Linked DNA regions of Homo sapiens. The protein of the gene in region 3 purifies or fractionates together with the protein of the main gene of each other region. This does not show direct contact. Each region holds a gene or a part of one and is shown on either strand. Other genes may lie near its edges. The genes, in order: MYL12B, ZFHX4, FOXP1, BNC2, HOXC13, TFDP1 and NFAT5.

What was found.
Region 1: the proteins of FOXP1 (region 3) and MYL12B purify together in Homo sapiens (affinity purification with mass spectrometry; one large-scale study listed by BioGRID and IntAct). This does not show direct contact.
Region 2: the proteins of FOXP1 (region 3) and ZFHX4 purify together in Homo sapiens (affinity purification with mass spectrometry, with the first as the bait; one study listed by BioGRID). This does not show direct contact.
Region 4: the proteins of FOXP1 (region 3) and BNC2 purify together in Homo sapiens (affinity purification with mass spectrometry, with the first as the bait; one study listed by BioGRID). This does not show direct contact.
Region 5: the proteins of FOXP1 (region 3) and HOXC13 purify together in Homo sapiens (tandem affinity purification; one large-scale study listed by IntAct). This does not show direct contact.
Region 6: the proteins of FOXP1 (region 3) and TFDP1 purify together in Homo sapiens (affinity purification with mass spectrometry, with the first as the bait; one study listed by BioGRID). This does not show direct contact.
Region 7: the proteins of FOXP1 (region 3) and NFAT5 purify together in Homo sapiens (affinity purification with mass spectrometry, with the first as the bait; one study listed by BioGRID). This does not show direct contact.

The regions. Positions count from the first base shown.
Region 1 is NC_000018.10:3,268,633-3,272,132, forward strand, and holds part of MYL12B (myosin regulatory light chain 12B), read left to right. Parts: intron 1-3,500. UniProt on the Homo sapiens protein: Myosin regulatory subunit that plays an important role in regulation of both smooth muscle and nonmuscle cell contractile activity via its phosphorylation. Phosphorylation triggers actin polymerization in vascular smooth muscle.
Region 2 is NC_000008.11:76,852,247-76,855,746, reverse strand, and holds part of ZFHX4 (zinc finger homeobox protein 4), read right to left. Parts: coding exon 1-3,500. UniProt on the Homo sapiens protein: May play a role in neural and muscle differentiation. May be involved in transcriptional regulation.
Region 3 is NC_000003.12:71,573,729-71,577,228, forward strand, and holds part of FOXP1 (forkhead box protein P1), read right to left. Parts: intron 1-3,500. UniProt on the Homo sapiens protein: Transcriptional repressor. Can act with CTBP1 to synergistically repress transcription but CTPBP1 is not essential. Plays an important role in the specification and differentiation of lung epithelium.
Region 4 is NC_000009.12:16,864,171-16,867,670, forward strand, and holds part of BNC2 (zinc finger protein basonuclin-2), read right to left. Parts: intron 1-3,500. UniProt on the Homo sapiens protein: Probable transcription factor specific for skin keratinocytes. May play a role in the differentiation of spermatozoa and oocytes. May also play an important role in early urinary-tract development.
Region 5 is NC_000012.12:53,944,438-53,947,044, forward strand, and holds the end of HOXC13 (homeobox protein Hox-C13), read left to right. Parts: intron 1-562; coding exon 563-819; 3' UTR 820-2,107; downstream 2,108-2,607. UniProt on the Homo sapiens protein: Transcription factor which plays a role in hair follicle differentiation. Regulates FOXQ1 expression and that of other hair-specific genes.
Region 6 is NC_000013.11:113,629,753-113,633,252, reverse strand, and holds part of TFDP1 (transcription factor Dp-1), read right to left. Parts: exon of another isoform or gene 1,951-3,500; intron 1,631-1,950; coding exon 1,509-1,630; intron 134-1,508; coding exon 1-133. UniProt on the Homo sapiens protein: Can stimulate E2F-dependent transcription.
Region 7 is NC_000016.10:69,564,485-69,568,765, reverse strand, and holds the start of NFAT5 (nuclear factor of activated T-cells 5), read right to left. Parts: upstream 2,801-4,281; 5' UTR 2,465-2,800; coding exon 2,392-2,464; intron 272-2,391; coding exon 218-271; intron 1-217. UniProt on the Homo sapiens protein: Transcription factor involved, among others, in the transcriptional regulation of osmoprotective and inflammatory genes. Binds the DNA consensus sequence 5'-[ACT][AG]TGGAAA[CAT]A[TA][ATC][CA][ATG][GT][GAC][CG][CT]-3'.

The DNA.
Region 1 (3,500 bases), on a different chromosome or scaffold from region 3:
TTGAATTTAGAGGATTGTAGGTGCTCAGAAATCAGTGTTGAATTATATTGGTGGCATTGCAAGTTTTAAAAAATTTTGTGCTGAACTCAAAATAATTAGAAGAGTATTTAGTAGGAAGTAGAAAATATACAAGGAGAAACAACCTGTAACAAATGGGATTTGAATCCTAGCTCTGCCACTAGGTGACCTTGGGCAAGATTATTTAATATCTTTGACCTTCAGTTTCTTCATTTGGCAGGTGGGCATGTTTCATTTAATGTACATAATGTTTCTAGCACATGAGTCACTTAATAAATGGTAGTAGCTGTAAGTTGAGTAGATCTTTAATTCTCTCTCTGTTCCTAAGGCAGAGAAGTAGATCAGGGCAACTGGGGCTGGAAAAATAGCAGGAACAAAGATATACAAGATAAGATGTGGCATGGTACCTTGGGGACATTTGCAGTTTGGTGTTGCTAAAGGAAAAGTACAAAGCAGGGAATGGCTAGAGAGGAGGCTGGAAAGGTCATTCTAGAGTAGGGAAAGGAAGACTCATGCACCATGTTTAGGAACTTGGTACTTTATCCTTTAGAAAGTGGAGAGCCAAAGAAGATTTTAAAAAGTGGAATGATGAGGTCATATTCATGTTTTAGACAGCCCTGCCTAGAAAACTAAGGGTAGTTTTGAGAGAGCCGAGAGGCAAGGGGATAGTGAAGAGGCCATAGAGATATTTTACACAAGAGATAATGAGGATCCAGTTTAGGGTGATGACAGAGGAATGAGGAAGATGAGCAACTCTGAGAAATATTTCTCAGAGGCAGGGCTTGGTTCATCAGGGAGAGGGATTGGGGAGGGTGACTCCTAGGTTTCTGGCTGCTGGGTAGATGATTGGAAACAAAGATGGTAAAGTTCAGGAGGGGAGAGATAATTGAGTTTTCAGCATGTTGATTATGAGTGTCTGTGGCATATCCAGATGGGTGCCTTTCACAGGCATTTGGATGTTTGAGTCCAAGGCTCCAAGGAAAGGTCAGGCCTGGAGGTTCGGATTTAGGAGGTGCAGGCATTGTCATAACAGTGAAAGTTGATGAGATCATCCAAGGAATGAAGACTGAAAAGAACTTTAAACCATGTGCTGCTAGAATACTGGGAAACATGAATATTTAAACGGAGATAAACATCTAAGAGGAAAATGGAGGAGGAAATCTTAGAAATAGGAGAACTGAGCTAGAGTAAGTCAAATACACCATTTTACATAATCAGTCTTTCCAATATAATGCTTAGCAGTCTTCCTGATTAGAGCGTAAGTTCTTCAAGGTTGGGACCCTTTCCACCTGGGAAAGTTCATTTCTACTGTTATGGAGCACCAGGCTAACAGTGGCTGTCTCTCCAAAGAAAAGAGGGATAAAATAGTGTGATGCAGTAGACTGATCCAAGAAGATTTAGACCAGATTTGGCAATTAAAGCAGTTGCAGTAGAGAACAGAAAGCCAGATTGTGGTGGGTTGAAAAGTGAGTGGGAAGTGAGAAGGTGGAGGAAGCCAAGATACTTATTTCAGAAGGGAAGGAGAGAGGGTGGTAATTTCTTTGGGGGCCAGAGTTCCCTTCAGATTGATTATTTTGATGCAACTTTGCCTCACTTTTCAGCTGATACTGTATGTGTAGTTTTTATAGGTACCATATACGTATACAAATGTACCACTGTTTTTAAATGAAGTATGAAAAAAATTTAAAATATAGTATTACTACATTGAGCCTATATCTGCTCTAACATATTTTGATTGGGACCAGTTAGTGAATTGTTTTTTGTTCTCTTCCATCAACTTGCCTTCTGTTTCCTTCTCTTGGGTGTCACCATCAGATGGTGATGGCTCTTCTAGTTATCAGGCTAACTAACTCCCTATTCTTTCTCACAGGCATTTCCCCTAATAAAATCCTTGGGTGTTTCATTCTGTCTTGGTATCAGCTTCTTAGAGAACTCGGACTAAACTTCAAAAATGTTTAAATATAGTATATTTTTGGGTTAACTGTAGAAGTAGCATGATACAATTGACTGATTCTGATTTGATTTGATTTGATTTTTTGAGACAGTGTCTCGTTTTGTCACCCAGGCTGAGGTTAGGGGCACCATTACGGTTCACCAGCCTCGACCTCCCAGGCTCAAATGATCCTTCCACCCCAGCCTCCCAAATAGTAGCTGGGACCACAGGCATGTGCCACCACACCTGGCTAATTTTTTAAATTTTTTGTAGGGACAGAGTATCACTTTGTTGCCCAGGCCTATCTCAAATTCCTGGGCTCAAGCAGTCTTCTGGCCTCAGCCTCCCAAAGTGTTGAGATTATAGGTGTGAGCCACCGCACCCGGCCTGATTCGTTTTTAAAAATAAATATTTAACTCTTTTGGAACTTTTTCTAAATAACTCGATTACAAAAATTACTTGCTGATACTGAGAGAGAACTAATAATTTTTGCCTTCAGATGTATTTGACTAATCTTGAAGAAATTGAGTCAAAATTTTTAGCATGAGAATGAACCTTAATCTAAGTTTTGGTATGTGAAGAAGAATGAAAACATAATCAAATGCCTTGTTAGTAGACTACATTCTGTCTCTGATTTAACCTTCGATATAACTAAGGTCAAATAACAAACTAAGTTACAAGGAAGAGAAGAAAATTAACATTTATTTAGGACTTGTATATGGGGAGGGTAAGGAGTTGGAATGTTAGAGTAAGGACTGTAAGGCTGGTGTACTTCAAAACAACACCACTAAGCCAAGCTTCAAAACACCCTGTGGGATGTTCTTTAGCTTGAATAAATAGAAGTAGACAATACATTTATATAAAAAATCCCAATACCAGAAGTCCTGGAGACTTAGGTCCAAAATCCCCTTGCTCAGTCATTGACCTCTCTAGTCATTTGTTTTTCACATTGCAGGAAGTTACGGAAACAGTCTGCAAGACCATCATTTCTGACAGCAGTTTCAAGTTTGGATGTCCTAAGACCACCCTTGCGTTTGATTATTTGCTAAGACTCACAGAACTCACTGAAAGCTGTTAGGCTCACAGATACATAGGTTTTCAGAGGTTATATGTAGCTAGTAACGGTGGAGCTGAGATTTGAACTCAGGACTTCCTAACTCCAGAGCTGATGGTATTTTTGTGTTTTATTTATTATTTAAAACTGCAAATTAAAAATGAAATGACAAGTGCCTTTTCTGCTTGACATTTAAATTATTGGTGGCTTTCAGTAGAGTGTTGGAAGCTACTACCAAAGCCATATTACGGAGAATGGAGGAATGATTGGGAAGAAGAGAAAAGGGGCTGGGCACGGTGGCTCATGTCTGTAATCCCAGCAGTTTGGGAGGATCTCGAGCCTCAGAGTTCAAGATCAGACTGGGCAATATAGTGAGAAACCCCCCATCTCTAAAATAAAAAACAGAAGGAAAAATGAAGACAGTTCAGCATTAGACTGGTATTCTGAAAGTCTTGTCAAGGGAAAAGGGAAATGCAGGGATAGCTAGAAAGATGA
Region 2 (3,500 bases), on a different chromosome or scaffold from region 3:
TTGAGTTGAAGATTGCTCATTTGCGTTCGAAAACGCTTGTGACCCGGCCGATCATTACTTTTGGATTTAAAGGGATTGCTGGATCCGAATGGATTTGGGGAGCTCGGGTCCGCTATGCTGGACGTTTCGCTGCGGTCGGCGTTGTCATCCGGGTCATCTGTGATGTAAAAGCTTTGGTCGTGGTCGCCATCTTTGTCATTGAAATGGATGGATGGGCTTGTGAGAGAAAAGAGAAATTTGTCATCGCAGACCTCCGTGGTAGGTGTGGTTGCAGGTTTTGGCAGAGTATCCAGAGTTTTTGGCTCTTTGGGAGACAAAGCCGGTTTCACATCTCCGGAACTTCCTGTGGTGCTTTCCATTTCAGTGTTTCCCTCGTCTCCGGTGGTGGCGTCACTGATTGCCGTATTAATCGATGAAGTCTCATCAAAATCGGTTTTATTTTGATCATACCCAGCCTCAGCAGGAGGGGCATTTAAATTCTCTACATCCTCAGAACACTCTGCTTTAAAAGAAGAAGGGCTTAAAAGATTCTTCGGTGACAGCTCTGCTGTTTTACTAACAGGTGTTGACACTGTAGAAGCCAATTCATTCTCACTTGATAGATCAATTTTAGTTAATGGCAAAGATGGGTAATCAAAATAGATGTATTTCTGTGGGCTTTCTCCCCCATCTTCGGTGGATATTAAAGGGCTTGGTGGCAAGCTGTAACCTGCCTGCTTTCCTTCATTCCAGTGCCGAGAGCGAATGTGGCTTTCTAAGGCCGACTTTGCTTTAAACAGGGCTCGGCAAAACGGACACCGTTTATGAGACTGTGCTGGACCCACCGCCCGGAACTGGCCTTTCCTCTCCCGCGCTCGTGTATTCTGGAACCAGACTTGCACGACCCTTTTTTTCAGCCCGACTTCGCGGGCAATATGATCAAGCATTTTTCTGGTAGGATTGGAATCCAGCAAGTATTTTTCATAGAGTATTTCCAGCTGTTCCGGGGTGATCGTGGTTCTCAAGCGTTTATCTCGGTGTTGGTCTTCACCGCTATTCCCTCCTTCTTTTTCACTGCAATTATTATCTTCTTTATCGTCTAGTTTCCTTTTTAGGGAAGCAGCAACCGTTGTGGGGGCTGTGGTGTGGGAGGAACTGGCCTGAGGGGGCATTTGAGTGAGGGAACTGCCCAGCAGTTGTCCAGTCATCAGCGGATTGTTGGGGTCAAATATCATGTAGGGCATGTCCATGGGCCTTTCCAAGAACGGAGAGTGAAGGAATTGGTTTTGAGCAGCAAGGAAGTGCATGTGCTGGTGTTCCTGCCAGAGTTCCAGAGTTGGGAAGGCAACTGTACACTGATCACATTGGTATTGTAGTAACTGTGGAGGTAGACTGTTCTGGAGAGACGTCATGGAAATTTGCAGTGGACTGGAAGGGACCGGTGTTTGAGAGGCCGAGGGAGGTCTTCCGATAAGTTGGGGTTGTTTTGGTGGCTGTGGCTGTGGCTGTGGCTGGGCTGTGGATGCCTGTGGTGGGTCCGAGGAAGTCGATGCTAATGGCAGGGCTGGTTTGGTGCCTTGAGAAGGGGGAGAGGGGTCACTCTGCTTTGGCTTTTCTGCGGGATATTCAGGTTTTGGAGAAGTCTTCTCAGGTTCTGGTTTGGGTGATGGAATCAGGGGGGTGCTGGTCCCAGAGCCAGAACTTGCTGCAGGGGCAGCAGCGTTTTTAGCTGCATCCGTTTGGCCAGACACTGTGCAATGCTTGTATACCACTTGATCAGTGGCATCCATGGAGTCTTCTGTTTGGCTTTCATCTTGGGCATCATCATCTTCATCCTTGTAACACTGCTTTTTCTGATGCGTAATCAAGTCAAAGATCCTGGGGAAAACCACATTGCACTTTTTACACTGGTACTGCATGTTGCTTGTTCGAATGTACCGTTCATTAGTGAGTTCTCTTTTTTCATTATCTTTTGTTTCTGCTTGATTCTCATAACTCTTTCGTGCTTTCTGACGAGCATTCTGGAACCATACAACAATAACCCGGGTAGGCAGATTGAGAACAGTGGAGAGTTGTTCTATTTCATCATCTTTTGGGTAAGCGTTTGTGTCAAAAAAGTCTTGCAGAACCCTAAGCTGGTAGTCAGTAAATCTCGTTCTAGAAGACCTTTTACTGAATGATGCATCAGATTTGTAATGTTCTAAAGAGGTGGGCTGTGGATCAATTCTGATATCTTCTAAAACCGTTATAGGAGGGTTACTGAAGTTGTATGGTGAATCTTTATTTCTCTGTCGTTCCTTAAAAAGCGTATTTCTAAACCAGTGTTTGATAACTTTTTGGGAGAGGCCAGATTTCTCTGCCATTTCCTGGATCTGTTCTTCACTTGGAGAATTATTAATGTCAAAATAAGCCCTCAGGATTTTTAGCTGATCATCTGTAATTCTTGTCCGTGGGCGTTTGAACTGAGAATGTCTTAAGAAGTTGGGATCTAATCCGAGCTGCTGCTGGCAAAGTTGGGTGAGGTCTGCAGAGAGTGCGTCCATCTGTGGCAGCTGCAGGGCAAGCTGGGGAGGAAGCGCAGGGTGTTGCACAGGTTGCATCATAATGGAAGGAAAGAGCGGCAGGTCCAGAGAAACCGGCAGTTGGACCTGTGGAGGAGCAGAAGGTGGAGGAGGTGGGGGGGGAGGAGGAGGAGGAGGAGGAGGTGGTGGTGGTGGGGGAGGAGTGGGTGGTGGAGCTTGCAGAGGAGTAGAAACCGTGTTGGGGATCTTTACAGGACCCATAGAAGAAGGCTGTGGAGGAGCCGGAGGCAAGGGAGGAGGAGGAGGTGGCGGGGGCGGCGTTTCTGGAGAAGATGGAGAAATTGGATAAAGCTTGTCATAGGCCTCCCTGTATTGACGAGCAAATTTTTCTAGCGCTGCATATGGAAAAAATTGCCCATGTACATGTTCTTGGTGACTCTTTAAAATAAGAACATTGGAAAACAATTTACCACATGTTCCACATTCTAGTTTGTCAGTGTTTTCGCCTTCACCACTTTTGCCCTTCTTCTGTACCTTCTGCCTGTTTTCGTTATACTGAATGACCAGTTCAAAACCAAAGTTTTCCAATAACGCTTTGGCAGCATTTCCTCTGGCCCCTGAAGCTATTCGGGGTGGTGGGATGGATGGTTCCAAGGATTTTTGCTTCTTTGTGTCTTTGCCTTCTTTGAGTCCTTCACCTTCACTTATAAATTCCTGCTTTGGTTTTTCTGGCTTTTCAGAAATATCTTCTGCCTCCTTATAAGATGGCACATCCTTCATGATTTGGCAGTCTGCACTCACTATGTTACTTTGCTCTTGTTTCAATAATTTGCTTGCCTGCTGTTGCTGCTGCTGCTGTGGAGGTGGTGGCTGCTGCTGTTGTTTTTGAGGCTGCAGCTGGGGCTGTGTGGCTTGGTATTGTTGTGCTTGTTGCTGTAGTATCTGGAGTTGAGTTTGACCAACGTGATGTTGGGTTTGAATCTGCTGCTTTAGGTCTTC
Region 3 (3,500 bases):
TTATGGACATAGATGTTATCTGAAGATGCCCCACCCCTCCTTCCCAAGGCTCAATCAACTAGCTTCTTTCCAAATAATTAAATGGGGCAAACTTTCTATTAGAAAATATCTACCATACATCACTAAAAAAAGGTCTGTCATTGATTCCCTAATGAAATATCAGTTAATTACTTAACCTTTCTTAATGAAATGATTAACATTTCAACAAACAAGGCGGAATGACTTCGCATCAAGCTGTAGATTACCAGTGACAGTGGTAACTATGTGTCCTCTACCATTGCGCCGTCTATTCTTTCAATCAGCTCCATGTTTCATCTTTTATAGAAATTCTTTATGCAGTAGTAGAGACACTCTACTTTTAAAATTTGGCCCATAAGAGTTTTTTTTAAGTGCCTCAGGGTCAGAACAGAAATTTTAAAAGTTTTTATTAGACGAATATCCCCAATGCTACCTAAACCTACAGAAAAGCAAACTGTGAAGTTCTAAACGTAAAAACAATTGCCAACTTTTTGGCAGCTATTAAAATAAAGCCACACCTAAAGCCAAAATGGAAATTAAAAATTAGGTGTGGGCATTATGGACACATTATTACCGGGTAACTTCAAAAGCCACATTATTAATACAGATGAAAAAATGTCTCAACAACTTTTATTTAAATAACTCTTTTGATCTTAGTGGTTAGATCTTTAGTTGAAGCCCTGAATATTTAAATAAGCCTCCTTAACATTTTATCTTCCTTTATTTCATAATCTTGTAGGATGCCTTCTTCTTAGGATTCTGGTTTCTTTATTTGTGTGGCATCGTTGGCTAGGCTATTTCCATCAATATTCGTGCATGCCCCATCACATACGATAGAGAATTTCCCAAGATGCTTGGGAAAATCAAAATACTTCTGCCAGCAGGGTTAATCCAAAGAGCAAACAGTTACAATTTTAAAATTAAGATGGAATACTCAGAAAAAAAAATTCTAGAGAGTCATCTGACACTAATTGGTAGCTACAGCATGACAACACCCATTGGGAAACATGGATGCAGGCAAGACAAAATTCAAAAGGAAATTATCTGATATTGACATTTGGTGAAAACCACCGATGTTCCAGGTTGTTCCTATCACGTTATTGAACTGTGAGGCTCTTGTTCTGCCTCTGTTTCTCTAAGTCTCCAAGGTTTCTTTTTGTGCCCTCCTGAAAAAGGAGCTCCGTTTTCTTCTCTTAGGTTTCACAATGGCCAACCAATTCAATTAAACTCTTAAGAAGGGTTGCAGGCTTTCCTCCAACTCTGATAATTGACAGGTCCAGTTTTCCCACTTTGGTGGGCATCAGGACCATGTGGGATGCGATTTAAAAACACAGATGCTGGCCCCACCCCAGATACGGCACATCCAGGAGTCGTGCAACTGTGTCTGTGTTGGGAACAACAGCTCTGCTGTGATTCCAATACTCGTGCTTGGTTAAAAACCACCGTTTTTCATTCGTAATAAAAATCCAAATACATTAAAAACAACACAGGATGGGCCTCAAGGTAAAATCAAAGAAATCATCAGTAAAATCCAAGTGAAGATAGAGATTTCAGTTCCACACATCTGAAAGAATAAATCACTTGATTCACAGGTCTCTAGCATGCATCAGAATTATCAAGGGAAGTTTGTTATAAATGTACGTTACCATGTCAATCAGCAAAAATTCTGACTCAAGGATCTGTATTTTAATAACCTACACACACACACATACACACACACACACACAGATACAGAGGTAGGTGAGCGAGGACCTCACTTTGAACCAGGCTGAATTAGGACCAACTGCAACCTCCCTTCACTTCAGACATGAGCATTCACTTCCATCTCTGTGCTCACCCCCAGGAGGGGAAGCCACCAGTGCCACTGGTCATCAGGAGGTAGGCACCAGGGCAAAAGAAACTCAAGCAAAACTCACATCACACCCTCCCCCAACAAAAGCTGCGGTCACTGTCCTGAGAGCACCAAGAATATCTTTTAAAAATGTGAGTAATAACAAAGCCCTGTATCATTGGATCCCTAAGCTCAAAGAACATATGTTAAAATATTACCCCTAATTCAAAAGCAGGGAACCTGGAGCAGAGAAAGTCACATTATGACTCAATTGCACAGCTGGGAGGGAGAAAGGACACCTCGGAAATTCAGTTTGATGCTAGAAATATTCTTCAGTGTCCTAGTAAACAAAGTGAATCACAAAATTAGCTAAAATCAGAGCATCTGGTAAAATGTGGATGTCCACCTGACTTACAAGTAATAAATAAATATATGTCCAAACATAAAACTCAGAGAAAATGTTTGTCCTAAGCAAATCTATTCTATTGAACATAAACAAGGCCCAATAATCCCACATTCAGATCCATTTTTCCCTCAGTAAATTGTCCTATAACATGCTAGCCTCTGATATCTTCAAACTGTTGAAATCAAACAGAATGACATGGGCTTTCTATTCAATGATCCCATTTCAGCTATTTATCTGAATTAGCAGCAGTTTGAGGAAATACACTCATCACAACATGATTCTGAGTATAGAGAAGTAAATAGTAAACAGAACACTGGAACACAACTGTGTATGTATTCATATTCCTTTTTAAAAAAAAAACTATTTTATTAAAAATACAATTTGGAAGGAAAGTGCAATTAGCTTTGCACAGGCACTGCTGAGATGTTCCCGAACACAGCAGACATATGTAAATATTTCGTGATATCAGTTCCATTTGAGTAGACCTGTCAAGATATTTACAGGGCTTGACAGTACTTCTGTCTTTAATTAAATTTTTGCCCAGATACTTTAATATAATTTAAATAGATTATTAGTTGTCAGAATCGAATATAAATTTTGTTTACGATTTAGTTACTTTAAGTACTCAGACTGAAGGAACTAATTTAACCCTACAACTGAGCAGCTTTAAGCATCAAGGCCAAACCACTAGAAAGCTCCCACTGCCCTTTGCACTCTACCAATAACCTTAAATTATTACAACTGAATTGTAAATTTCATGGCACTAAACTGAGCCCCCCTCCCCTCCTTTTGAAATAAAACAGCTTGGGGAGGGTCATGAGGAAACACCCATTTACACCTGTTCAGGTACTAGGTAGGTTCTCCCTTTCAGGCACTCGTTCTCACAGCGGCTGGCTAGATAGGAAACATTTTTTTCTCACTCTAAGTCCCATAAAATAACTACCGAACAAACACCTGTTGTGTACAAGGCAGGGCATGTATTAAAGACTGGCATCAGGGCATTGCAAAAAGAAAAACAAGCCTTGCAGAGACATCCACAAGCCAATCTGGTCAATAGATTTCACGACTGGGTAAAACAACAGTGCGTGCGAAGAACACAGCTTCTGGCACAACCTTCTTGTGAATGGCAGCTGACTTCTAAACAAGGATTGAAAAATGCCTTAGCACAAACTGACTGTAATTAATAAGAATAATTTATTAAAGAAACAAAGAACACTGTCTAATTGTCTTTCCTGACTGCCATGC
Region 4 (3,500 bases), on a different chromosome or scaffold from region 3:
ATGCTAGAGGAAAATCAAAGGAGGAAAAGAGCAAAGGAAAATTAATAGGCTACATTATTTTTACATAGATTTTAAAACATATATATGACATCTATGAAATATCTTTTAATTATTCTCTAGATATGGAAAAAGATAAACTGCTAATAGATCCATTCATATATATGATTTAGTCAGTACTAAAAATAGTTATGTTAGTCACCAGAAATACTGCTTTTGTCCTCTGAAAGATTTGAAAAAAGAAAATAAGACTTTCCATTGCTGTCAAATGTATTCAATTTTCCCCTCAAATGAAGTTTGGATGAAAACAATGTGACTGACAAGCCCCGCACAGGCAAATCTTGGCAACCCTCAACTCTGTCTATCTCCTTGGCCTGTTAAGCAAAATTCCTTCACAAACTGTTGGTCTTTGCAATAACTCCTACAAAGCTCATTACTGCCAGCGTCGGCCTATCCCCCATGTTGTGCATTTATCCCTGGGATGCATATCAACATGTGGCACATGTCCTTGACATGCACAGAAGAGCTGCACCCCAGGACAGCAGCATGCACGACAATAGTCTCGACGCTTACTTCTTTACGGTTGCTGGGATGTAACCGAGAAATCTAATAACTGTGACAGTGGGGCCTTTCGGTTTTTCCTTGCCTTTCCAGACAGTGAAGCTGCACAGACACTAATGAAAGGTTAAATGAATAGGAATAGTTGACAAGAGGTACAATAAAGAAGGAGCTTGGTAATCCACAGACACTGAGCAGAGATCCTTGGCTCAAGCAGAGAAAGGACAGCACATCGTCGAGTCACAATATTTAAAACAGCTTGCTATACACAGAGGCTTTTGTGTCTGGGTACACGTCTGGCTTTGGACTGAAAAAAAAAAAAAAAAAGACACTGAAAAGGAATTTCAGCATGGGGCACTTTGGCAAATGTAAGGTCATTATAAGAGAAAAATGTTTTGTGTAGGTTGTTACATCTTTGTAATAAACACAAAAAAGCAGGGACTATGAACTCATGAACCACAAGTTCCAAGACAATACTGTACATTTTGACAACTATTAAATACTGTATCTAGAAGGCTGGCTTGATGCTATTCCCACTGGTAAGATACATACACAGTGAGTCATTTAGGAGTTTCACATTCTGCCTTCCTTATGGAAGAATTCCTGATACTCATCTTATTAGAGTTTTATAGTCAAGTTCTAGTCTTTAGTGAACGTAATTTGTTACAAATACAACCAAAACTCTCAAAGCCACCTTCTACTCATTGAAAAACTTCACAGCAGTTACTAGCAATTTGTGAAGTACCAGGCAAACTTTTTGTAATTGTAAGTGATTGCAACTGTGAAATGGCCTCAGCTAGAATTCTTAATTATCGAACCTATTATTTTTTGGTGCCCTTCTCACTATACCTCAAGGGAAGGTTGTATTCCTTAGGAAGTTTATTTTAAATTATAACAGCAAAACAATTTAAATCACCAAGAGAAAAATACTCTAGAATGTCAAAGAGAAAATAGAGCAAAAAGAACAAAACTGATATTGTTATGTACGGATATTTTTAAAGGAAAAAAGTTATGACGATAGCAAAAACTTAAAGAATGATATATCTGTAATATCATTCTTACGCATATTGAGTTAGAATATAGGTTCTTACGCATTGAGTTAGAATATGGGTTCGTAACAAATGGTAAAAGCATACTGAGAATATATTTCAAAACAAGGGAGGCTCTTTGAACAGCCAAATTAAATTATAGCTGAACTCTTGAGTGTACTGAGGGTTCTAATAAGCAACAAATAAAGACTTTTATTGGCTAGCAACATAATGAGAGCTACTGTGCAAAAGATTTTAAGAAGGACAAATCTGGGTAGTTTATCTCACTGGATTATATTATTTACTTAAATGATAAATATGTTTGTCTAAAGTAATGCTCCTAAAAACTAGTATATAAATATTAAAGTGCAATTATGATCAATGACTCTTTAACATAACTGTATCACAAATGTTAATGGAAAGTGGTAAATATGAAATTAAATGACAATTATTGAATGTAATATCATTTAAATCCTATTTCTTTAACTTATTTTTTGATCCATAATAAGTCAGGTTTATAAATAGTTTAACATTTATGCTTATAACAGGAAGCATTTATTTTAAAGAAAATTTCTCTCTGGAATACAGAAGTTGTATGTAGAACTACTCCAAAACCATCATTTACAGAAAAGGGGTTGTCCTTCATAAACTAAAAGAAGTTAACCCACTTCTCGGTGATTTCGTAGGAAGCTACTTTTAATAGAACTCTGAAGACTGGCCTCCTAAAACGAGAGTAACTCCCTCAGTTGACAAAAACTACAAACAGTAGTTAGTCAAACCAAAACATTTAAAATATAGTATCTGGTTGCATTTTGCCTGATCTTCAAATCACCTGAAAGGCAAAAGCCTAGAAAGCTTAGCTGACGCCTTGACTGTTCTTGTAGAAAGTTCTTTTGCTTCTGTCACTTTTAAAAAAAAAAAAAAAAAAAAAACCATAATAGCACCTCCCAGCCTCAACACTGAGCCAGTATTCATTACCTACTCTTTTTGTGCAACATTCTGATGGCCAGAGTGTTTTTTAAACCTTAAGTATATCTAATAAAATCATGAGGCTCCCTCTAGCTCTTCAGAGGGGATTTTACTAACCAATGATACTATATAATTCCCATCCAACAGGAAAGATTTGAGGAGGCTACCTCCCCTTCCACAAGAAATGTTTTCCACTCTGTTTCTTGTAAGGATGTAGATGGTAAATGAGACCATCTGCTGAGTAAATCAGAAAGCGTTGCTCCTTATATATTTATCAAGTTAAGAATCTATAAACTGCTTCCAACCTAAGCTTTATGTACAGAATTCTATAGTGAAACTTTAATCAGATTAAACCATACGACATAAATTTACCCATCCTGTCTAAAATTAATTTTAATGTCAAAAAACAACAACATGTATGAACATCCACAGAAATTCAAACTTGTGGTCTGGTCTCAGTTTTAAAAATCTACATTTAAATGCAGAATCTCAAAAATTCAGGAAAAAAACACTTCATGAACTGTATCTGTGGGGTTTATATAAAACAAAGATGCTAATAGTATAGAAAACATTTTCATGTACCATAGTATTTATACACAATACTAGTATAATGACTTTTTTATTGTTTAATCTTACCTGCAATTTAGTATTGGATATTTGGGGATCGTAGGTTGTTTAGAAGACTATAAATAATACAGTTGAAGTATGCCATCTTACAATAACCATAAAAGCCACATTGTCAACTGGCAAATCATCTCAAACAAGTGAATGTGAACAGTACTAAATTGAACTCCTCATATTCACTAAGGCCATCTTTCAAATACTTAAGGAATATTTAAAACCGTGCTGAACCCTTAACTGTAAAATTAAAAGTAAAGGAAACCACTAACTTCAAGTCATCATCTATTTTGGACTCCCTTAATATAAGAAATATTCCCAGGAACAACA
Region 5 (2,607 bases), on a different chromosome or scaffold from region 3:
CCCTGAAATATACAACAGAATGTCTTCCTCTGGCAACGGGGCAGAATATAAACTAATAAGGACCCAAGCGATCTAACTGCAGGAAGGAGGGATTTTTCTGAATATCTGAAATTCTGCAAGCATGGCAGGCCAGGCTGGAATTTGGAGGGTCCCTTCTAAATATACAAGGATCCTAATATTGAGTGCTGTGAAGAGCCATATTGGGGCCTGAAACAAAAGAAAATCAGTAATACCGAACCCATGTTTATTTTTTTAATTGATATTTTGTTCATCATGGATGTTTTTGTATTCGTTTTGCTTTTTTAAACATTGCATTAAAATATCGTCTTGATTACTGAGTTTTTGGCGCCCCCTCCCTTAAACTTCGAGCCCAGTGGCCTCATCATAGTTGTGGTCTTGCTAAAATAACAGAAATGAAAAGCATTAGGGAGCTTCACTATGCAGTGCAATCCTCTGGCCCCGTTGAGCCCCTGCCAGAACTCTGTGCCTAGGCAGCCTCGGGTCCTCTATCTCAGTCCAGCCGCTTGCCTCACTTCTTCCCGCTTGCCTTATCTCCCCGCAGACGTGGTTCCCCTGCAGCCCGAGGTGAGCAGCTACCGGCGCGGGCGCAAGAAACGCGTGCCCTACACTAAGGTGCAGCTGAAGGAGCTAGAGAAGGAATACGCGGCTAGCAAGTTCATCACCAAAGAGAAGCGCCGGCGCATCTCCGCCACCACGAACCTCTCTGAGCGCCAGGTAACCATCTGGTTCCAGAACCGGCGGGTCAAAGAGAAGAAGGTGGTCAGCAAATCGAAAGCGCCTCATCTCCACTCCACCTGACCACCCACCCGCTGCTTGCCCCATCTATTTATGTCTCCGCTTTGTACCATAACCGAACCCACGGAAAGACGCTGCGCGGGTGCAGAAGAGTATTTAATGTTAAGGAAAGAGAAGAACCGCGCCGCCCGGAGGCAGAGAGGCTCCATGGCCGTGCTGCTGGGCCATCCCCAACTCCCTATCCCATCCCCAGCCTCCACCCCCATCCAGATGGGACTCACGTGGCTTCAACAGCTTTGGAAATGGGTCCCGAGTGGGCCGTGCGAGGAAGGCTGTCGACCTCTACTCCTCCTTGCGCTCACCTTGCCAGAAAGTCTGGTGGCAGCGCAGAGCCCAATCATTCCAACCAAAGCAGGGTTGGGGAATCCCGAATGGCCCCAATTCTTGCCTCATCCTATGACCAGGCTTTTAGAGGACCTTCCCTAAGGGCGCAGCTTCGGAGCAGGATCTGTCCAGCTCATACTTTCCTTCGCTGTCCCTCCCGCACTCCTTAGGCAAGATTTCCCAGTAAAGATTTTCTGTGCGTATTTTAAAAGTCGTGTTAATACTCATGATAATTATTAGGGACCTGGCAGCGTGATTGGAGTATGGATGTTTCCGTAAAAGCTGGAATTCCGTAAAAGCATTGACGCAGCCCCTACACTCCATCCCAACCAAGAAACTGCATTTCCTGGGGCCAGGTGGGAGCTGCCTTTGCCCCACTGCCTCCCCTGTTCTGCTCTCTCAGTCAACATGTGGAAATCCAAGGAGGACAAAGACTCCAGCCACGCTGCTAAATAGGGCTCCTCTCTCCTCTCTCTCTCTCTAGGTGGTAAGGTTGGGGATTAGTCCAGGTACAGAAGCAGAACTTTTTTCTAAGGATAAACATCTCTTCCAAGGGGATGGAGAGTGGGTCCCTCAACAAAGTCCCTGTCCAGTCACCTTTCCATCAGGGCACTAGCCCAGGAATGACTCCTCACACTTTCACCTTTACTGATTTCCAGAGGAAAGCTAGAGGATCTAGTTCAAGAGGCAAGAAGATCTGGCCCTCAATTAGCTAGATGTAGATGCTGCCTAACAGTTCCCTCCTCAAAGGCCACCTTGGTGCTGTGGGGGCCCCTTGCCTCTTCCCTTCCCACTGGTGCATTACAAAACAGTGTTCTTTTGAAATGTTCATCAGGAATAGGCTTTTTTAAAAAATGTTGTGTATCTGTATATAGTATTGTGATGTCTGAATGACAATGTACTGAATGCAAAAAGGAAAAAAACCCACAAACATGTTTTTAAAATAAAATATCTTTTTTTGCCTTGATTTTATTGCTCAGATTCTTTCTGAAGTCTATTCTGTCCACTGGCTCTTCAGGACAGTCTACTATGCCCTGACTCAGCCAGAATGATCAGGGGGAGGAGTATAGACATTGCTCCCAGCTGGGTAGATTCCAAACCCTTGTTTTGCTCCACTTAAGTTTTTGGGTTATCTATACTATCTATATAGGAGAAAACTTTCCATCCTGATGTCCAACTCAGATGAGTGTTTGTTGAGGAAGGAAAGACGTAATTGGTGACTGAAAGGCCTGGAGGCAGTGACAAAAATACATTGATGGTTACTTCGGTTAATAATTGGGGCTCAGATCTGGTTCTGGGTACTGAGAAAGTAGCATCCCAGCTGGGAACTGGATGAGGTAAATGCGGCAGCCGGTGGCAGTGAGGAATTAACCTTAGGCTCCTGGTGCTCTATTGCCCCAGAGGGCCCCGAATACCTTCAGCCAGTTCAGGACTGGAGTTGGGGCTGGGATGGGGTCAGCACAGCCT
Region 6 (3,500 bases), on a different chromosome or scaffold from region 3:
ACTGAACTCCGCAACCAGCTCGTCTGCCACTTCGTTGTAGGAAGTGGTCCCTTTCCTCTGCACCTTCTCGCAGACCTTCATGGAGAAATGCCGTAGGCCCTTGCCATTCTTCTCTCCTTTCCTGTTGCGCTTCCTTCAAAATACAAAGGAAAAGAGAAGCGACTGTCAGCCCTCCTGAGGATCAGCCTGAATCGAGGAATGCTTTTACCTGAGAGCTCTAATGAGCTGCACAAAAAGGGGCCACGTCCCACGGGCGCAGCAGATCCAACACGTGAGCAGGCCAGGACCCCCTAGCCCCAGCCCCCAGGCCCAGTGGTCCTGCAGGTCAGAAAGCGAGTGTCTCCCCAGCAGGCTGCACCTCTAACCTTCCAAGCGTCAGGGAAAACGGGAGGCGTCCCCAGGACCCAAATCAGCATATGGGAGATGTGCCGGTACACCAAGCACCACTTTTCTTTTTGTTGTTGTTTTTTCTTTTTTGAGACGGAGTCTCGCTCTGTCGTGGGCTGGAGTGCGGTGGCGCCATCTCGGCTCACTGCAACCTCCACCTCCTGGGTTCAAGCGATTCTCCTGCCTCAGCCTCCCGAGTAGCTGGGATTACAGGCACGTGCCACCACATCTGGCTAATTTTTTTGTATTTTTAATAGAGACGGGGTTGCACCACGTTGGCCAGGATGGTCTCAATCTCTTGAACTCGTGATCTGCTGGCCTCGGCCTCTAGGATTACAGGCGTGAGCCCCAAGCACCACTTTTCTAAAGAGGGCAGCCAGAATCAGGAACTATGGGACGTTTCAGTGTAAATTTGGGAATTCTTAGGACTAATTTCAGCAGGCTGTAATTTCATACAGCTTGGGCTGTGACAGCCGCTTGACAACAGGTGCAAAGCACTAAGTGTGCTTCAGGTCGAGGGAAAGCCCAACTCTGTACACTCTGGTCAGTCCCCACATGGCGGGAAAGGCCACCTGAGGTTCCTAGCTGGTGAAGCTTTGGGCACCAACACAGGCAGGCTTTTGCAGCTTTGCGTGTGTGTGTTTTTAAGGAAAGACACAGCTCATCAGATCTTGCTTTAGTGGAAGGAGCAGCTCTGGCGGGACCACCCGCGGGGGCCGTAACCCCAGGGGCAGTAGAGGCTGAATTCAGGGGCAGTGGGTGAAATCCATCCCACATGCTCCCAGCACAGACGAGGGAAAGTCTCCGAGGTCCTGTGGCGAGTACGAGGCCAGCTTCTCCCCGTCTTGGCCAAGAGCTGCCAGCCCTTCAGAGAGCACCCACTACACCAGACACAAAGCGGGGTGGGCGGTGCCCAGCCCGACTTCTCCATGACCGAGGCAGTGCGCCTCGGCTGCACACCTGTGCAGGCCACGATGATGGGTGAGTGTGATTCGGAGGCTGGCGTCAACGCGCGTGGGAGCCCCATCGCACGACTGTGTGACACACGTGGCCCAGGAGAACGTGGAGGTGCGAACCGCAAGCAGTCCTACAACTCTAAGGGTCCAGAGGGAAGTGCTCACCCGGCAGACCAAGGTGAGGAGTCGGAAGGCTGGTTCTGAGAGGCAAAGTGAGTGCTGGGGGTGTGTGGGCTTCCTACCACCAGGGTGTTTGACGCTGCCGGTCTCTGAGGCGTACCAATTACCTACAGTCGAAAAAGACAATTCAGACAGTCAGTCCCCTCCCACACGGCGAGGGTGCCATGCCCACCATCTGTTCGCTATCCGCAGCCACTGCTGAATTTCCTTAACCACAGTGAGCAGCCATGACGGAGCAGGAAAAACGTCCAGCGGTGGACGCTTTTGTCACGGTGACGGCATCACCCCACCGGTTCTGAATGTGGCTCATCTTCCTCTTGTCAGTCACAGGCATCTTCTCCAATTAGACAAAAGCAACAAGAAACTTCGGACGACCCAAGCAAGCAAGAACAGGACAGGGCAGAGCGTGACCCCCAAACCGCACACAAGGCGCTAACGGTCAAGTTTAATGAAGGGGGCGGCACAGAATTCCACACAGGGCACTTGAGCACGCTTCCATTTTTCCCTTCACCCTTTTACTTCCTTTTAGTGATATGGATGAGGATGAAATTGTATCCTTCTGTGGTACTAAAAAGAGGCCTGAAACAAACCAAAAACAGCTCTCAAAAGACAAAAGCACAGGCAGGGTGACAGCAGCTGCTCCTCCAGCCCAGCAGGGTGACAGCCATCACCTGGTAACCCTGTGCCCTGGGGCCCTGTCTGGGGGAACCCCTGCACCCACAACGGCGTCAGGCAAGGAGGGAGGGCCACCAGCACTGGGGGCGGAAGGTAGGGGCTCCACACGCCCCTGGGGCTCACACACCTGGGCCCCTCTGGGGGGAACCACCAGAGGCAACGCCAGTGTGGACACTGACCCACCCGCCCCACCCCACAGCACACCTGAGGGTGTCAACAACTGTCTCTCCCTTCAGGGACATGCTGGCTGGTCTGACTCTTGACAAGGTCTTACCACTTTAGTTCCAACAATGAATGTTCGAGTGTGAATACCTGGACACCCTCATACAGGCAAATACAACTCTGACTTTTCAAAGATCTTGTGGCACGACTCTATCTAAACTGGAAACACTATTTCTCAGTAAATGTTAAATCATTCAATTCACCACAAATCAAAGTGCCTCAGCGATTATACTGCTTGTATGGACATGCAGTTTCCGTTAAAGGGATTGGAGCTGGACACCTGTATGCTGGCGGGGGGGCTTCATGTGGCCGATGCCCTGAGCTACTCTAAGCTGGGCCCCCCCAGCTCCCCTTCTTACGGGGATAAATGCATCACCTGCGGTGGCCCTGGGAGCAGCTGACGGGGACACTTTCCAATTATCCCTAGGCCAGATCACCTGTCAGCTCCGGAGAAGAAAAACATTTCAAGGACTGATCTTTTCATTGACACTCATCTCTCCGATGATCAGAGACTCATCAGAGTGCGGCCTTCTGTGGATCACCAGGCCATGAAATCAAACAAGTGAATTTTCTGCAAAATGAAGCCATACAAAAGATAAATCTCCTGGGCGTGGATAAATGTCCTGTGAAACTTGTTTTGTTCAATACGCGTGTGTGTGTGTGTGTGTGTGTGTGTGCTGCTGGGGCACTGGGCCACGTGGGAGATCCAAACAGCTGACAAAAGGACCCTGCCACTCAGGCTGCCTGAGAGCGCGCTGGCCCCGCACGGCTTCCTACGTTGAGTTCAGCAGATGCCATTCTCCGGGAGTTGATGTCAGACTGAGAACCCGCCAGCTCCACGCCAGGCAGTGCTGGCTGGCTCCGCGCATACCACACGCACAGGTACAGGGGGCTGGAGAATCCCACACACGATTCTAACCCACCTCATGGGTCCACTCCCTTCCCCAGGAATCCCAGGACCACGCAAGGCACTGGATCTTGGCCCCAAAACAGATGCCGTCACCGTGCCGCTGTCCTCCAGGCAGGAGCAAACCTACTCACAAAGAGTGGACTTACAACGAGGAACTGACTTACAACGAG
Region 7 (4,281 bases), on a different chromosome or scaffold from region 3:
AATGTTTCTCAAAGCAGATAGAACAGCCAACAAGCACATCAAACGCAGCAACAAAACCCATTGAAACATTCAGCTGCTCTAAAAGAAGGATCAGACTCTTTAGGAGAAAACTACATTGTGTGAGTTTGCAAAGTTTCATACTTTCCCATTTAAACTCCATTTCAGAGAAAGCCTTTGCATACTAACACAATATGCTTTAAAATGGTACTTTGCTGACCTTCCAATAGTCCAGCTCTATGAAAATTCTGTGATGGGTGTAACTTCAGAGAATCTGAAAAACACAAAAAGCATTAGGTACTTTTTATGCTGAATGAGGAAAAAAATGCCAAGGATAGCATACATCTCTTATATAACTGCAATGTGTGTGTGTGTATATATATATATATATACACACACACACACACACACACACACACACATATATATATATACACACATACATTTTGAAACGGAGTTTCGTTCTTTTTGCCCAGGCTGGAGTGCAATGGTGCGATCTCGGCTCACCGCAACCTCCGCCTCCCGGATTCAAGTGGTTCTCGTGCCTCAGCCTCCCGAGTAGCTGGGATTACAGGCATGCACCACCACGCCCGGCTAATTTTGTATTTTTAGTAGTGACGGGGTGACGGGGTTTCTCCAAATTGGTCAGGCTGGTCTCAAACTCCCGACCTCAGGTGATCCAACTGCCTCGGCCTCCCACAGTACTGGGAATACAGGCGTGAGCCACTGCGCCCGGCCAACTGCAGTGTATTTTTAAGCGCTAAAGCCCATATTTGTGAATATATTCCCCGCAAAAGAGGCTGAATTGTCTCTACATTGGTCTCGAAGCTAAACTTAGATTTTCATAAAGTATATGTTTCATGGAAAATTATCTGATGATTACTCCCCAAATGGTGTTAATGTCTTGGCTATTTTTAGCACTCAATTCTAACACATTAGCCCTGCTCTAAGAATCATCTCTTGATATGTCTCTTTTTTTTTTGACATTCAAAACTACAATATTTCTAAAGTACCTCAGGTAATGTTGCCCGAAAAACATCCTACAGGATGGTGGCTGCCAACTAAAGTCATTGGAGCAACAGACAGTGGCTACAATTACTAAGTAGGACTCTGTGTACAAAATCAATGGTCAGTCTGTAAAGTCCAGCACCTTTCAGAGTAAACCATCTCACTCTGATTCACTTAAACAATTTAGATACACTAGTAGGAAGGTGAAGTCCCTTTTTTGGAGGGGGTGGAATAAGCAAATGGATGGATACATCAAACCAAAAGCAGAAGAAACACCTACATTTTTTTTTACACGGTGAAATGAATAGTTAACAACCCAGTTATGTCTTTTGCCCCCTCCCGGTGGTTTAAAAAGCGTAAAGAGCGCAGTGGGAATATTTTGGTTTTGAAGCCCCTTGCACAGGGAACCTGTTCTGACACATTCTTGTGGTGTCCAGTAAAGGAATTTCACCTGAGTAGGGATCAGCTCCAGTGCTAATATTTCAGATGCTGGGAATCCCCTGCAGGCCTTAGCCAAAAGAGTTCTTAAATGAAAAGTCTCTGCCTGAGCTCCCTCCCTGCAACCAGCCCTTGAACGGAAAAGCAGAGAAAATTCTCAAAGGACAGCGTCTGTGCCTGGGCTGGTCCTCCTGGGAGAGGAGAGGAATAAAACCAATCCAGAGAGGGCACCCCCATCTTTGTAAAGGAGAAGGGAGAAGTAATTAGAATGCCACGGAGGTGGGAAGAGAAAAAAAAAGAAAAGAAAATTCGGGCCCTTTCCATCGGGCCCTTTCCAGCAAGAAGATGACGAGGAAAGGAAGAACGCCTGGTCGAGGGGGGCTGTCCCAACATGGGGAGGGAGTGGACTAGGCCGGAGGGAGAGGGGGTGGAACGACGGCGCAAAAACAAGCTGGAAAGGGAGGAAAATGGTGACCCTGCACTCAGAACCGGCTCCAGGCCACGCCGCCCGCTTGGGGGCAACTTTGCTGGGGAGGAGGGTCCCGGTAAGAGAAGACGCGGCGCCCCGATCGCGGTGGCCCCAGCGCGGGGCCCAGTCTGGGGCCATCCCCGAGCCCGGGAGGCCGGGGCCGGCGGCTCGCGGAGCCTGGCGGGGCCGGACGGGCTGAGAGCGGCTAGAAGCGACCGGTGCCGCAGAGCCCCGGGGGCCGACGGAATCTGGGCCCCGAGCGGCCGGCGGCTCCGCGGGGGAGGGGCCGCCACTGCTCCGCCCGCCCCCTCCACCGTCACCCCGATCCCTTCGGCCTCTGCCCGCTCCGGCCAAAGAAGCCATGGGGGTCGCGGCTCAGCCGCCCCCGGCGGGACGGGGACCCCTCGCCTCCCCTGGCCCTGTCTCCCTGTCTCCCTGTCTCCCCGCCCCCACGCCCCACCCCCCACAGCCTGACTCACCTCGCGAGTAGAGGGACTTGGGCGATTCCAGGTCTAGGTCCGCGCTGAGCAATGAGATGAAGTCCGAGGGCATCGCAGCTCGACCCAGCCCGGCCCGAGGGCAGCGGGAGGGGGGGAGCGGCGGTGGCGGCGGCACCTCCTCTCCGGGACCGCGGGCACCGAACCGGGGGCGGCGACGCGAGGGCGGCTGCCGCTGCCTCCTCCTCGAGGGTAGTGACTTCCACTGGGCCGAGGACCGAGGAAACGATGGCGAGGTGGAGGGGGAACTCCACGGGGACTGATTCTCGGTGACCAGGAGAGGGGTTCAGGACGGGGAAGGGGAAGGGGGAGAGCCAAAGGGTCCGTTTCGTGTTTCTCCTCAGCGAAAACTGACGGTCGCCGCCACCGCCGCCGCCGCTGACAGGAATCTGAGCCCCGCCCCCGTGGGGCACAGCGCAGGCGCGGAGGGGGGTGCCCGGGAGCGCGGAAGAGCCGTGGCGGCCCCCGGAGGGCGGGGAGGCGCGCCAGGGAACAGCAGCAACATGGGCCTCGCTTCCTGCCGGCGCGGCCCGGGCTGCTGCTGTTCCTGAGCCGGGAAAGGGCCCCGCTGCCAGGGTGGGAGGGGGGGAGGCTGGGAGGTGGCCGCGCGCTGGGGCCCCGGGGAGGGAAAAGGTATTTGCAACGACCTGGTGGCGGCGAGCCTGAGGCGGCCGGCCCCGAGCAGAGCTGAGCGCAGGAGACAGAGCCGAGAGAAGCGAGAGGTCTGCGCGAGCCGGGGACGGACCCCAGAGGCCGGCGGCGGACGGGCCTGGCTGGCCCGGGGTCTCGCAGGGGACCGGAGTGTCATCGCCCGGACAGCCGCCAACCCTTTGGGGTTTGCATAGCAGTGTGTACAAAGGGACTGTCAAACCCATTTCTTAATTAGGAAATGGCAAACCGTATCCCAAAAACCTCGAGTTATTGATTTTTAATTAAAGTACTTTCTCCCCTAACACTCCCCTCCTACCTTTGGAGGCTGAAATTTTTTTTAAAAAAAACGATCTCTCTGATTGTGCTGGGGCATCCGGGTTATTCGGAGTGGGACATAGAAGACAATTAAAAAATTGGATCATGTGAATCCACCTGGCTGTTCTAGAGGAAAAACAGGTAAAAAGCAAACCTCAACGCTACTCTTCCAAACAGTTTTTCTTTTTTCTGTTTCTTTTTTTTTCCTTTTGGACTAGGCAAAGATGGAGGAAGAACGCATTTAACTGAGTTTTTGCTCTTGCTTTTCTGTTCGTGGAGCCAAAAGTTTCCGTTGCAAAAATTTAAAATCCTCACCCACACCGCAGAGCGTTTTCTGATTCTAATAGACTTCTGAGAAATTTTTAATCAAGTTATTGAAATATTACCTGGAGTGCAGGGTGTGCATCTTGGGAAGTAATTTTAATCTTGTGTGGAATATTGATGCCAGTAGCCACGTGGGCATGGTTTTTAAGCTATTCGAATGGTTTCGTTTTTTATCTACAAGGATAGTTACAACTCATGAAAATCAGTCTGTTGTAATATGTGTATGTGTATATATATGCACACATATATATACATACATATATACACACATATATACATATATATATAATTATAGAGACTTTTTCCCATGAAATTGAGCAGTTCTCGGGACTTGGAGTGCTAGGGTTGGGGTAAGAAGCTCTCAGCAAAGGAGGGCCCAGTACAGATGTCGCTGAGGCAAGGCCCTTTACAAAGTTTTACCTGTAGACCTAGAATTTAAACGTGTGTCATCAGAGCTCACCTATCTTTCATCTCAACATTTGATTCAGGTTGCCCAGTTGTCTTCACTGAATTGTGTGTAGTAATCAATCCTGTGAACATTTTTCTTTTGTCGGAGGTTCAGAAAGCTTTTCAGAGCCACCC